Regions from separate parts of the Homo sapiens genome. Here regions 1, 3 and 4 are each reported to be linked to region 2. The links are microRNA targets in miRTarBase. Many come from high-throughput screens and were not tested one by one. Region 2 holds a microRNA gene; each other region holds the end of a gene's coding sequence.

Evidence for each region. Region 2 holds the annotated microRNA hsa-miR-548n (CAAAAGUAAUUGUGGAUUUUGU, at 1,222-1,243, opposite strand). A microRNA usually pairs through its seed, bases 2 to 8, with sites in the 3' UTR of a target mRNA and lowers its output. Matches are read on the target gene's strand: a 7mer-m8 pairs with bases 2 to 8, a 7mer-A1 pairs with bases 2 to 7 and ends in A, and an 8mer does both.
Region 1: the mRNA of PRRC1 is a reported target of hsa-miR-548n. Seed matches in the 3' UTR shown: 7mer-A1 at 573-579, 7mer-m8 at 969-975, 7mer-m8 at 1,486-1,492, 7mer-m8 at 1,516-1,522 and 7mer-m8 at 2,069-2,075.
Region 3: the mRNA of SINHCAF is a reported target of hsa-miR-548n. Seed matches in the 3' UTR shown: 7mer-m8 at 724-730 and 7mer-A1 at 691-697.
Region 4: the mRNA of PACRGL is a reported target of hsa-miR-548n. Seed matches in the 3' UTR shown: 7mer-A1 at 2,309-2,315 and 7mer-m8 at 258-264.

Annotation. Positions count from the first base shown.
Region 1 is chr5:127,551,380-127,554,379 of GRCh38, forward strand. It overlaps PRRC1 (proline rich coiled-coil 1), which reads left to right. Exons shown (of 9, transcript NM_130809.5): 9 at 328-3,000. The coding sequence ends at 537. Among named protein-coding and RNA genes, the nearest start is that of PRRC1, 35 kb to the left of the region's middle.
Region 2 is chr7:34,939,583-34,942,778 of GRCh38, forward strand. MIR548N (microRNA 548n) reads right to left here and starts at 1,252; the gene lies at 1,178-1,252. It overlaps DPY19L1 (dpy-19 like C-mannosyltransferase 1), which reads right to left. Exons shown (of 22, transcript NM_001366673.1): 17 at 3,033-3,057; 18 at 2,183-2,302; 19 at 571-745. LOC102724723 (a long non-coding RNA gene) reads left to right here and starts at 2,644. Exons shown (of 3, transcript XR_001745166.2): 1 at 2,644-2,724.
Region 3 is chr12:31,279,934-31,283,129 of GRCh38, forward strand. SINHCAF (SIN3-HDAC complex associated factor) reads right to left here. Exons shown (of 6, transcript NM_001135812.2): 6 at 651-2,938. The coding sequence ends at 2,779. Among named protein-coding and RNA genes, the nearest start is that of FLJ13224, 43 kb to the right of the region's middle.
Region 4 is chr4:20,726,924-20,730,094 of GRCh38, reverse strand. PACRGL (parkin coregulated like) reads right to left here. Exons shown (of 9, transcript NM_001258345.3): 9 at 1-2,810. The coding sequence ends at 2,754. KCNIP4 (potassium voltage-gated channel interacting protein 4) reads left to right here. Exons shown (of 9, transcript NM_025221.6): 9 at 1-1,489. The coding sequence ends at 13. Among named protein-coding and RNA genes, the nearest start is that of PACRGL, 28 kb to the right of the region's middle.

The DNA.
Region 1 (3,000 bases), not on the chromosome of region 2:
ACTACTATAAAAGATAACTTTAGCACTGATTTTAGTACCAATCTTATTATTAACCTGAAGTGACACTTAATTTAGAACTAGAACTCAAACCTTCCGACTGTTAGCCTCGTTAATGGGGATATTTTTTAAAAAATAGATGTGTGTAATGTTACATTGATTGTGTTCTAGCCTTGTAAGTTGATATAGTTGGCAGCCTAGCTGTATTTCTCAGAGTTTGTCATAATCTATATTTAAAATAACATGAAACACTTTGAAATGTCACTTATAGCTAGTTCCAATGATATTTTTAAATGTATTATAAGTAATATCAATTTCATCTTTCCACAGGCTCAAAGTCTAACTCCCCAGGACTATAATCTGAGGTGGTCAGGCCTTTTGGTGACAGTGGGTGAAGTCCTGGAAAAGAGTTTACTGAATGTCAGCCGGACTGATTGGCACATGGCATTTACTGGGATGTCCCGTCGGCAGATGATCTACAGTGCAGCCAGAGCGATAGCGGGCATGTATAAACAGCGCCTGCCACCCAGGACAGTGTGAGAGGAGACCTACCTGGGAGACTGAGACTTTCCCCCACTTTTAGCTTGATGTTAAAGAAGTGGTTGTACCTTCCTAAATCGAATAGTCTAAATGAATCCAGTAGTTTTTATCATTTTCCTGTAGCCTGCAATTTTTCTTTCTCTAGAAAGGCATCATGTCATTCCAGGAGACAAAAAGAAACAAATCCTTTTTATAGTCATACCATTTCACCTATCATAGTACTCAAAAAAGAAAATATACAAATCTATTTACAGCACAATTTAATATACCAGATTTATAAGGTGGAAATTCATGTGCAGAGACATTTAACTTAATGCCATGTACTTGATTATTTTGTTCTTTAAAGAAGACATTATTAAAGAACATGTTGGTTGAATGTTTATAAAAGCATGATTTGCTTTGGCTTCATCTCTTTTCTGTCAGTCTTTGACTACTTTTGTATGTGCACACGATCTCAGGGCTGGTGCTGAGCAGCCTGCTCAACAGTCACTATAAGACACCTACTTGTCGGGAGATGTTCCACATTTCTGTGCATGTTTTCAGTAATATGGGCCAAAATAATGGAATTGATTATTTTCCTTTTTGGCCATCACGTACACATGTAATCTGGAAAATCATACCTTTGTCAATTTTAAACATAACTTTTGGCATTTCCCAGATTTATACTATGAACATTGGGGTAATACATTTTATTTTTTCATTGCTATATGACAGCTAAGGGGCAAATGATTCAAGTATATTTTAAATCAGAAGTATTCAAATTATTTTTGTATAATACTGTTCAGTACTTCCAAGAATAAGCTCTGACAACAGCCATTGTTTCTGCTTCCACTCATATTCTCTACACATTTTAATACAGAAATTTTTGAGAGGGGGTTACTTTATTGCTTGTGGGTTAGTATGTCTCTTACTTCAATTAAGGTTACTTATTTGGTTTGCCTTAAGCATTACTTTTTTAACTTTGTGCCATTTGGTCTTTACTTTTTATGGATGTTTTCAAAGAAACTATTTTATATTCAATCTAGTTTATTTAGTCTACTGTATTTCTATTTCGTGGAAGCCTTTTCCCCTCAAATAATATATTATATCATTTTTGGACTTATATAAATGATAATTAAATAAATTTTTTTCTTAATACTGTTGGACTTTGTATATACAAGTTCAAATAACTTTTTCGAAGATAGTTTCTTATATAAATGTAATTTAATTTTTTTACTCTTCTATACAGTTCTTTAGATGTAAAAGAATTAGCACAATCTCTGGCAGTTTTATAAAAGCTGTTGAAGCTCTTGTCCTGCACTGTCTTTAGGTATCATAGGTATCAGGTTTGCTTTGTGTTAATGCCACTTCAAGTCATTATTTGGTTTCTGCTATTTTTTTACCTGAGGATAAGAAGAATGAATATTAAATTTGAATATTAAATATATGTTACTTTCCAAGCACTGTATAATGACTGTTCAGTGAATATCAGACTTCCGTGTCATTAAAAGTCATGAGAGACAGCACAGAGAGGTTATAGGTTGCCTTGGTGTACTTTTGTCCAGGAGTAACAGGGACAGAATACTTTCTTTCTTTCCTTCAAGTACAAGAAGGCTTTCTCTACCATTTGCGTCTACACTTTATTTTAAAAGCTATCCTTTTCTAGTAGTATTTTATCATGGCAATGGCATGATGACAACAACAGTCTTTCATTACAGACTGAAGGGAAGCATGTCCTTACTTAAAATAGTTCTGCTACTTTCCCTCCTATTATAAGGAAATCTTACAGATTCTAAAAATACCTTAATTTTTCTTTGATTTTTATTTTACCAAGTCACAAATGTCTTTTTGATGTTTTGAGAATTGTTCTCATAGAATCACAAATACTGACATTTCATTAGATGATTATTTTCCTAGAATCCCCAAAGAGCAGTGGCAGTCCATGGCTTGGTTGAAGCTAGAAATTTTCCTGCCCCTGGTGACCTGGTAAGCCTCCTGCTCGGAACCGTGTGAGTGGGTGAGGAAGATGAGAGATGGTCAGATGGAAGAGAGAAATACATGAACTGCTCTGGCCTCTCTGGTTCTGTTCTTGGCCCAGAGTTTTTGAAAAGCAGCGGAGCATGACTGACTTCACATGCTCAGCTTTCTCAGCCTTTTGTTTATTTTGTTGTCCTTAGATTTCCCTGTTGTAAAAGGGGCAAGAAAAGTAACTCATCATCTCTAACACACCATGGCAGCTTAGCCAGGTAGTCTTAGTGGTGGTGTTTAGGCATAAGATATGCTGATCATCAGTCTCAGGCCACAGTTTCCTTCACTAATCGTCCAGCTTGAGTGTTCTGTTCTCTTCCTGCCCATTTCCTTGAACCTCCTGCTCTAGCCTTGGCGGAGGGAGAGTGCTATTTGCTTTTGTTCTCCCTCTGTCTTAGGAAAAGCCATCTTTAATATAGTTCTTCACCACTGTTGGGGTTGTTTTGTGATTTTTTT
Region 2 (3,196 bases):
AAACAGAGCTTCATCATCTCATCATTAAAGATTTCTTTCTTTCTTTAAAGAAAAAATCTTAGAAATCTTTCCTGAATCTAAAAAAGAAGTATCAAATGGACTAGGAAAGCTTTACAGTAACAAGGAGTTCTGGAAGATGATTTAGTATTCAATCATTTGATACTCAGATGACAACAAAGTCTCCCTTTCCACACATGAATAAAATGTCACATTCCATGAGTTTATTTCAAGAAGGAATGTGAAGGACTAATATTAAAAATTCATTAAGAAAATAAGCACAGGAAAAATTATTTTAAATGTGGCATTTATGACTGTGAATAAATTTTGAAAAAATTAAAATCTATAAAAAATGGCAGAATAAATTACTAAGAACATATGTATAACATTTCCCCTGCAAACCATTTAAACAGGATTGATATCTCCTTTGTTTTAGATATTCTAAAAGCAACATTGCATAGAAAGAGTGAGATCAGTGGAAGTAACTAGGGTTTAAGAGTTTGCAGTGGTATATAAAATTGTGGGAAAAACAGCTAAATAATATGACTTTTTTTTTCTTTTTTTTTTTTTTACCTGGTTTAGTACTATATTTGATCCATTCTATAAGTTCTTCTTGGGGCAAATTGCTGAACTCCCCTACAATATTCCACTGGGTTTGCAGATTTGCTGAACCTTGTATTGACATTGCTGCTAATATAGCAAACACAATAGCACCAGGATGTACTTTGCAAAAGAGCCATCCAAATAGCTGAAACCAAATTAAGAATACATTGGTAATTGTTAGTATAAGTAGTATGCATCTGTTATGCAAAACTTCTTCCCAGAGAAGAATAAGGCCTCTGCTAGAGTCCCAAATAAAGGATTAATTATCCTAAAGAAAAAGCCCCAAAATAATAATCTTTGGGATCAAAAGGATTCTACCATCAGCCTCATATAAGTGGAACACAATGTAGGAAGCTCTTTTCTCAACCTGCTTTCACTACTCCCAGATTCAAGTAAAGCCACAACCAATTTACAAGGCCCAGTACAAAACAAAAATGTGGGGTCTCTTGTTAAAAAATTAAGACGTTCAAAACAGCAGCAGCAAACATTCAATCAAGTTCAGGGTCCTGAATGTGAGGTCCTGTGTGACCAGCAGGAACCCCACACTTGGAAAACCTGCCCTGGGTGACACTTTCTATTAGGTTGGTGCAAAAGTAATTGCGGGTTTTGCTATTTTTAACGACAAAATCCACAATTACTTTTGCACCAACCTATATCATCAGTCATGCTGTGGGATAAGACTCAAGATTAAAGGCTTCCAACCAGCCTCCTTTCCTGTGCCAGCCTGAAGGGGTCAGAAAGGTAGAAAGTAGTGCCTTTCTAACATAATACAACATACTGATTGGGAACCTCAAGGCTGGCTAATTTTTTCCACATCCAAATAGTCCACACTCCATAACAACACTTTGTTCTCTTGATCTTTCTCCACATGTCTACAGAGCTAGATTTCAAGTTTCTTGAGGGCTTATAAACACTGGCTTTTGACTTTTCTGTCTACTACTCTCTCCTCCATCCCTAGAGTGCGCAGTGTAGGTGCTTAGTGACTATCTGCTACGTCTAAGGGAGGTGCTGCTGTTGTACCTAGGCTGGTTGACTGATGGAAAGGTGACACTATGGAGAAGCATAAATCTGTGAATACAGAACAAGGAGGCAGCTATCCAGGAAAAATAAGCAGCAAACCACCAAGGAAGGCTTAAACTAAATTTTAAAAAGCACAAGTCAAGAATGTGCACACAAATTGCACCAACTGAAAAAAAAATAAGTTTGATACTAAAAAAAGAACATATAATTTTCAAGCACTTATAACCTGAAATTATTAGATTTCTTTGTGATATGAATGTCAAAACAAAAAAAGTTATTATTTGTACAATTAAGCTCTGCTTTCTATCAGCACCTGCAGTAATCACTCATGAACTCAGTCTGTACTAAATCGGTATTAGTTGTACACCAACAACTATTTTAAATCTTTAGAAAGATAGAAAATGATCAGCTTTGGCCCTTACCCTTTAAGAAAGATAAGTACAAAACCATGAAGAGCTTTAACTATAATCACTTAAAAGACTTTGTAATTCATTATTTTAGGGCCACTCAATAATAAAGGCTAAAATTATCATAGTAGCTATACTCCAACATAACATGTTACCTGTCTTGAGCAGATCAGTGATGCCATAACACACATGTGTGGTGTCAAGAAGAGTTTTAGTCTCATAATTAAAATACCAAGGGCTGTATATGCTAACAATTGCAATGCATGGTAAACCAGCTGAAAGAAAGAAGAAAATGTTTTTTACTCCTACTGTTTGTGAAGTTTAAGAATACTAAACTGGCAATATGCAGAAAGGGGTACGTTCTCCTTAGTAACAAAAAATACTACTAAGGTTTCTGAAACTTCGAAAACAATTCTTAAAATTCACTTTCAAACTGTTCCATTTTAGTGGAAGGCTAAAATTATAAAGTCATTAAGGCAAGTGTTTCTGTGATTCTCAGAGTCAAACCTGTGGTTAATAAAGCCCACATTTTTTAATCAACCTTGATGCTACCATCAGACCAAGAAAAGACAGTGGTAAAAGAAATGACTGCTGCCTCAAGATCTGAGGGCTCCACCTTGGAACTGCCCTCAAAACCAGACTGGACAACTAGGAGATGGGAGCAGTAACCAATCACATCTCTGAGGCCTCAAGCAAGGTGAGCAGAGAGGAAAGTGATTTCCAATCATGCAATAGACACCTCATACATATGTCTAAATGGGCTCCAGAAATCAACTGCCATTAGTGTAAAGATGATCAGAGCAGAACATATGAGTTTCCTAGTTAATTTTAACAAATGAATAGTCAGTGAATCTGCATATAGCATTCTCATAAAAACACATAACAGGCTATTTTCAAGATGATTGCTGACAATTGCCAACAAAGTTAGAAACTGGAACTAGAAAGGAAAGTCCAAATGCATGCAACTTTAAGATAAGTAAAATTATAGTCATATTAAGTCTTTACCTCTCCATGATCAAACTGGTGTTTTCTGGAACAGAAAAAAATATATTGCCATCAATTCATTATTGAAGCACTTACGTCATATATTTGCATTTTCATCTTGCAAACAGGAGTTTTACAACTTCTATAACATTCTCTCAGGACACACACAGGCAAATCAAAATAAC
Region 3 (3,196 bases), not on the chromosome of region 2:
TAAGCCACTAAATCTATGGTAATTTAGGACATAGCAATAGATAATACTGGTACTATCAACTTCCTTAGTTACCTTGTTAATTTCATAGTAACTGTATTAGGTGGCATCCAGACTATCCCAAATTTAAATACTAACAGTAGTATAAAAAGTCTGGCCCTTTATTACCTTTCCCAGGTAATAAAACAACTGGTTTCTAAAAGTTTGATATGGATTACACCTCTTAGGATTCCTCATAATCCTGTGAAGTAGATATTCCCATTAATTATTTAACTCAAATGACTAACAAGGGGCAGAGCTAGGAACTTGAGAACCAGCATCCAACCCCTGATGCCACCACCCTTCCAACTTTTATAGTTTCCCTAAAGTCTCAATGATGCTTCCCACTATGCCCATAGATAGTAATAAAACCACAGACAGTAAAAAGTACTGGGAACATTTTGTTCTTCCTTTTAAATCCATCTTATCCACTAGATTAATAATTGTGCACATCAGTTAAAATGTCTTTTATTCCAAAGTCTATGTCTCAGTGAAGAGGAATTTATTCCCTTCATGGCTTGTTATTAATACTAAGCACTTAAACTGAGTATATGTGAAAGCCAAAAACATTATTCTTACTGAAGACCTGTCAAACAAAGCCACAAAACAGCTCCTTTTATTTTCTAGTAAGACTAGATTTATTCAATACCCTAGTAAAAGTTTTGATTATAAGTATCCAACAGTATAAAAAGTACAAAACAGATCTGTAGATTTCTAATATATTAATACAAAGTGCATGACTACATACAGTACATCCTACAGGCAAAGAGAGGTGGAAGGGGAAAAAGAAGACTGTGGTTGAGGTCTAGTAATAAATAAATAAATACAGAAGTAGAGATGATCCATATTATAGTATATTCTACCACCAATACTGCAGCCAAAATGTACAAAAAAAATCATTTCAAATAACTCAGGAGGATGATAATGGCTGGACTTTTGTAATTCACCTCAAAGACTGTGGGAGAGCCAACTCAACTCACTGTATAGTCTGTGCATATGGTGGCTTGTAGCATGTAGGTTTTTTCCAAAAGAAGGAAATATAAAATGTTTAGATTAAGAACTATAAAACTACAGGGTGCCTATAAAAGGTGGCTTACTCCTTATTGTTATTATACTATCCAATTTTTAAAATGCAGTTTAAAAAATAAGCACTGAGTCTTGTTATTACAAGGCAGGCAAATGTTTCTCCCTCATTTTGAAAAGACTGAACTGGCAATGCTTTTCCTGAACATTTAGAAAAGAGGCAGTAAGAGTACTCTGGTTTGGGTTCAAGTGAGAGGCTTTTCATGAAAATCTTAGGATTGAAGAGCTCTAAGTTCAGGATATCTCAATGTTCAGAAAGCCTGACTAAAAGAAGCCAAACCAAAACCATTTAATGTGAACACAAACCTCTTTTCTTTTAGTAAGTTTTACTTTTAATACAGAGTGAAAGAAAATAAAAATTTAATAGGCTAAAACAAGTCAAACACCCATTCTACACAGATAAAAACCTTCACAAAGGTCAACTGAAGTAATCCAGAGCTGAAACTGAATTGTGCAGATTTTCAATGAAGTCACAGAAGTCATGTAACACAAACAAAAGTCGATTATATTTACACACTCAGCAAGCCCTCTAAGAAATGTGCCCCAAGAAGCATTAACCTTTGTTTTGTGCCATCCTGAAGACTTGCACATTTTATTTTTCAGATAGCTTAACATTTTTAATCGAGTGTGTTCTCTACCATGCGGTAATGCTTTGGTACTATTCATACAGGGTCTTGCCTATCCTAAAGACTTGCCATTTCCCCAAGAGGAGCTTTGATTCTGCTTTAGAAGTTTTACATAAATTAAAATCTTTATCAAATATTAATATGAAGGGAGGCACAGGATGCAACATATATAGTCAAGTTACCTCTCTGTATATTTAGAAATTACTTTCTCCTCCAAGGTATTTGCAACAGAAAGCTCAGTCTGTCCTGCTTAATAATCAGTAGTACAGGTGTGAATCATCAGAAGCTTGGCAAGACCTTAATATTTCAAAATTATTAACAACTACCTCTAGGGGCAAGTTCATGTTACTGAGTTATGACAAATTTATTATCATGAGGGAAAACAAGAGTAGCCAGCCATCTTAAAAATGCCCCAACCACTGCTTCTCAAAACAGAAAGACTAAAAACTACATACAGTTTATCATACAACAAATCCCATCTCTGTCCCCTGAAATTCCCCTAGTTTCATTCATTAGAAGGGGATTAAAAAAAAAAAAGACTTAAAGAGCACTTTACAGCAGCATTCAGCTTTCCTATGAAATACTCAGCATCTTAAATATTATATACAACTCTTTTTTTAGTAAGCTAGACACTGGCTTCAGAGTTTGTGGGAGTGGGGGAAATCAACCCATTCAAAACTACTCTAGAAATTGTCTTTTGGCAGAATAGCAGGTATCCAAGTTAAAAATAAGAGGGTCATTTAAGACCAGCCTGGCCAACGTGGTGAAACCCCGTCTCTACTAAAACTAAAAAATTAGCCGGGTCTGGTGGCGGGCACCTATAAACCCAGCTACTTGGGAGGCTGAGGCAGGAGAATCACTTGAACCCGGGAGACGGAAGTTGCAGTGAGCCAAGATCACGCCACTGCACTCCAGCCTGGGTAACAAGAGCAAAACTCCGTCTCAAAAAAAAAAGAGGGTCAGTTTGTAGCTTTGTGGTTTTTCAAAATTCAGATATTTTTTTTTTTGTTCCCCTTCTACATAAAAACCTCAGTCACCACTCCTGAGTGGAGATGGGCAGAGGCTCTGGCCCCTGCTCCTCTGGCTTCTCAGCAGCTGCTTTCTTATTGCTGCAGCAAGGCTTGAAGAGATGTGTGTCAATGAGGACTTCCCCAAAACGGCCTTTATAGATGATCCCACAACATATCTTCTGTCTAAAAGAAAAAATGGAGAACAAGATACATTAATAAGGAAGAAAAATAGGAATACAAAAGAAATCTACTCACTATTATAACTAGTCCAATATAACCAAAGAGTTGTGCTTCTACAATCTTGCACATTCCAAGTGAAAGGGCTCCTAGAGTAACCCCAATTAGCTAGAGAAGGGGAATTACCCAGTTGCCTTAAAGGCCACACTGGAATCTTCTCAAATATTGAGGAAGACGGCATTTTGAAAGACAGCAGTCAGTTTC
Region 4 (3,171 bases), not on the chromosome of region 2:
AAATGTGATTTAACTTGTCAAATAGATCCTGAATCCAACAGACAAATGTGAACTATTCTACCACCCTTAAAGTTGGAGCTACCACTTTTAGCATAGATTGCTCAGCTTGACACTGAAGCATATTATGCAAACAAGCTTTGTTTTAATATAAAGCAATCCCCAAAAGATTTGAGCTTTCAGTTATAAATTTGCATCCTTTTCATAATGCCACTGAGTTCAGGGGATGGTCTAACTCATTTCATACTCTGTGAATATTCAAAAGTAATAGAATCTGGCATATAGTTTTATTGGTTCCTTAGCCATGGGATTATTGAGGCTTTCACATATCAGTGATTTTAAAATATCAGTGTTTTTTGCTACTCATTTGTATGTATTCAGTCCTAGGATTTTGAATGGTTTTCTAATATAGTGACATCTGCATTTAATTTCCAGAAATTAAATTAATTTTCATGTTTGAATGCTGTAATTCCATTTAAATTCCATTTATATACTTTAAGGAAACAAGATTACAACAATTAAAAAAACACATAGTTCCAGTTTCTATGGCCTTCCCACCTTCTGTTAGAAATTAGTTTTATCTGGCATTTTTAAACATTTAAAAATTATTAAACATTTAAAAATTAGTTTATTATCAGATATCAGCATATGCCTAATAAAACTTATTTTAATAAGCATTTAATTTTCCATAATATGTTACAGCCAAGGCCTATATAATAATTTTGGATTTGTTCAATCTTTCTTACAGGCTGTTTTCTATTGTATCAATCATTAGTATCAATCATTAAGTGGAAGTTGAAGAAGGCATCAAACAAAACAAGGATGTTTACAGACATATGCAAAGGGTCAGGATATCTATCCTCCAGTATATAGTAATGCTTAATAACAAGTAATCCTAACAGCATTAAAGGCCAAATCTGTCCTCTTTCCCCTGACTTCCTTACAGCATGTTTATTTATATTACAAGCCATTCAGGGACAAAGAAAGAAACCTTGACTACCCCACTGTCTACTAAGAACAAACAGCAAGCAAAATTAGCAAGCAAAATTCACTTTGAAAGCACCAGTGGTTCCATTACATTGACAACTACTACCAAGATTTAGTAGAAAATAAGTGCTCAACAACTAATCCAGATTACAGTATGATTTAGCTCATCATAATTCAGATTATTTTTAATCATCTTAGCCAAAACTGTAAAGTTGCCACATTACTAAAGCCACACACATCGTCCCTGTTTTGTAGAAATATCACAAAGACCAAGAGGCTACAGAAGGAGGAAATTTGCAACTGTCTTTGCAACAATAAATCAGGTATCTATTCTGGTGTAGAGATAGGATGTTGAAAGCTGCCCTGCTATCACCAGTGTAGAAATTAAGAGTAGTACAATACATGTACACTGAAATTTGCCATCACGTGTTTGTGTAAACTCAATGTGCACATTTTGTATTTCAAAAAGAAAAAATAAAAGCAAAATAAAATGTTTATAACTCTACTGTCTATGTTACAGGTCTTTTCCAAGAAATTTTGTAATTAATTAAATCTTACAGTACTTTCTAGATGGCAGATAGCTCTGGATGGTGCTCAATGCAATGAAAACAGGTAAAAGCAAGGCCAGCAGGCAGGCAGCTGTTGTAGCCAGAGGGAATTGCTTCTATTACATCAAAATTCTGAACTATGTCTATATTATATTTTAAAAGCTTCTTAAAAATTGCTAAACATAAGCACAACAAAATCAATGAATGCATGTACAAGTTTTAACATTTTAATTGCTGAATATCTTTAAGTGAACATCAGTATTTTCTGGCTATGAAATGCAAAAATAACACATTTACTTAAATACAGTTAACACCTAAAATTTAGGTAGTTGTAATGAGTTGTAATAAACAACATACTTGTAATAGAATTTACAGAATTAGAAAAAATTTTTTAAACTAGAATACTCTGAAAATTTTCCAAGCATTGTACATTATAAAATACATATTTACAAATAATATTAGTAGTGTATTCATGGGGCCAGGCATGGTGGCTCACACCTGTAATCCCAGCACTTTGGAAGTCCACTGTGGGAGGATCACTCACCAGAATTCTGAGACCAGCCTGGACAACAGAGTGAGATCCCATCTCTACAAGCAAATTTCAAAATTAGCTGGGCATGGTGGCACACGCCTATAGTCCCAGCTAATCAGGAGGCTGAGATGAAAAGGATCATCTGAGCACAAAAATTTGAGGCTTGCGGTGAGCTATGATTATGCCACTGCACTCCAGTCTGGGCAACAAAGCAAGACCGCTTTTCTCTTTTAAAACAATTTTTTAAAAGTGTATTCACAAACATTTGTCCACTATTTTAAACTTCTATAGCCTTGTTAAACATTAAACCCAAGAAATGGCAAACTATCTATAAAAATAAGGGCACAGCTACAAACTGATTGCCAAAAAAGTGTTGTTATAAATAAAAAGACACTAGAAAATACAAATACATCTTATCTTGCAAACTCAATAATGGTTCTTCGCACAAATAATAAAAATACAAAAAATAAACCTCAAAATTGTACTCTTATAGAACTTATTTTAATAACTTTCCATTAGTAACTGTTCTTTTTTGTTGATGAATAACTTTGATTCAGTGTCTATTCATCTTAACCTAGTAAATAATGAATGGTGGCTGTGATTTACAAAAGAATAAAATAAATGAGTACCCACAGTTAGTGCTTGACACGTCAACAGGTAGAAAAAACAATTTTTGTTGGCTCCCTTCTTCAACAGCATATGGAGCAGTATGTTGGAATTTTAGATTTGATGATGCTAAGGCTCCCCTGTCAACAGAAAAAAATTGAGCATCATTAGTATCATGCAGAGTTCCCCTAATAGGTATTATATTTGCAGGAATATGCCTAGAAAGTATCTAAAACTCAAACAAAAAGGGGTAAGAACAAAATGATGAAATAAGAAGGACTTTTTGCTGAGTTAAATAAAATATAGGCTGTTTCTTTCTCTTTTTTTGAAGTATCTAACTAGAGAAGTAGTTAGAAGCCAGACTACCAGTATCTGAATTCAGCATCTACTAGTCACTTATTCGTCAAACCTGGACTAATTACTTTTCTGTGCCTAAGTTCCGTGATCTTTAGAGGGAGATAACAACAAAATCTCCCTCTGATGACTAGGAAGAGTAAATGG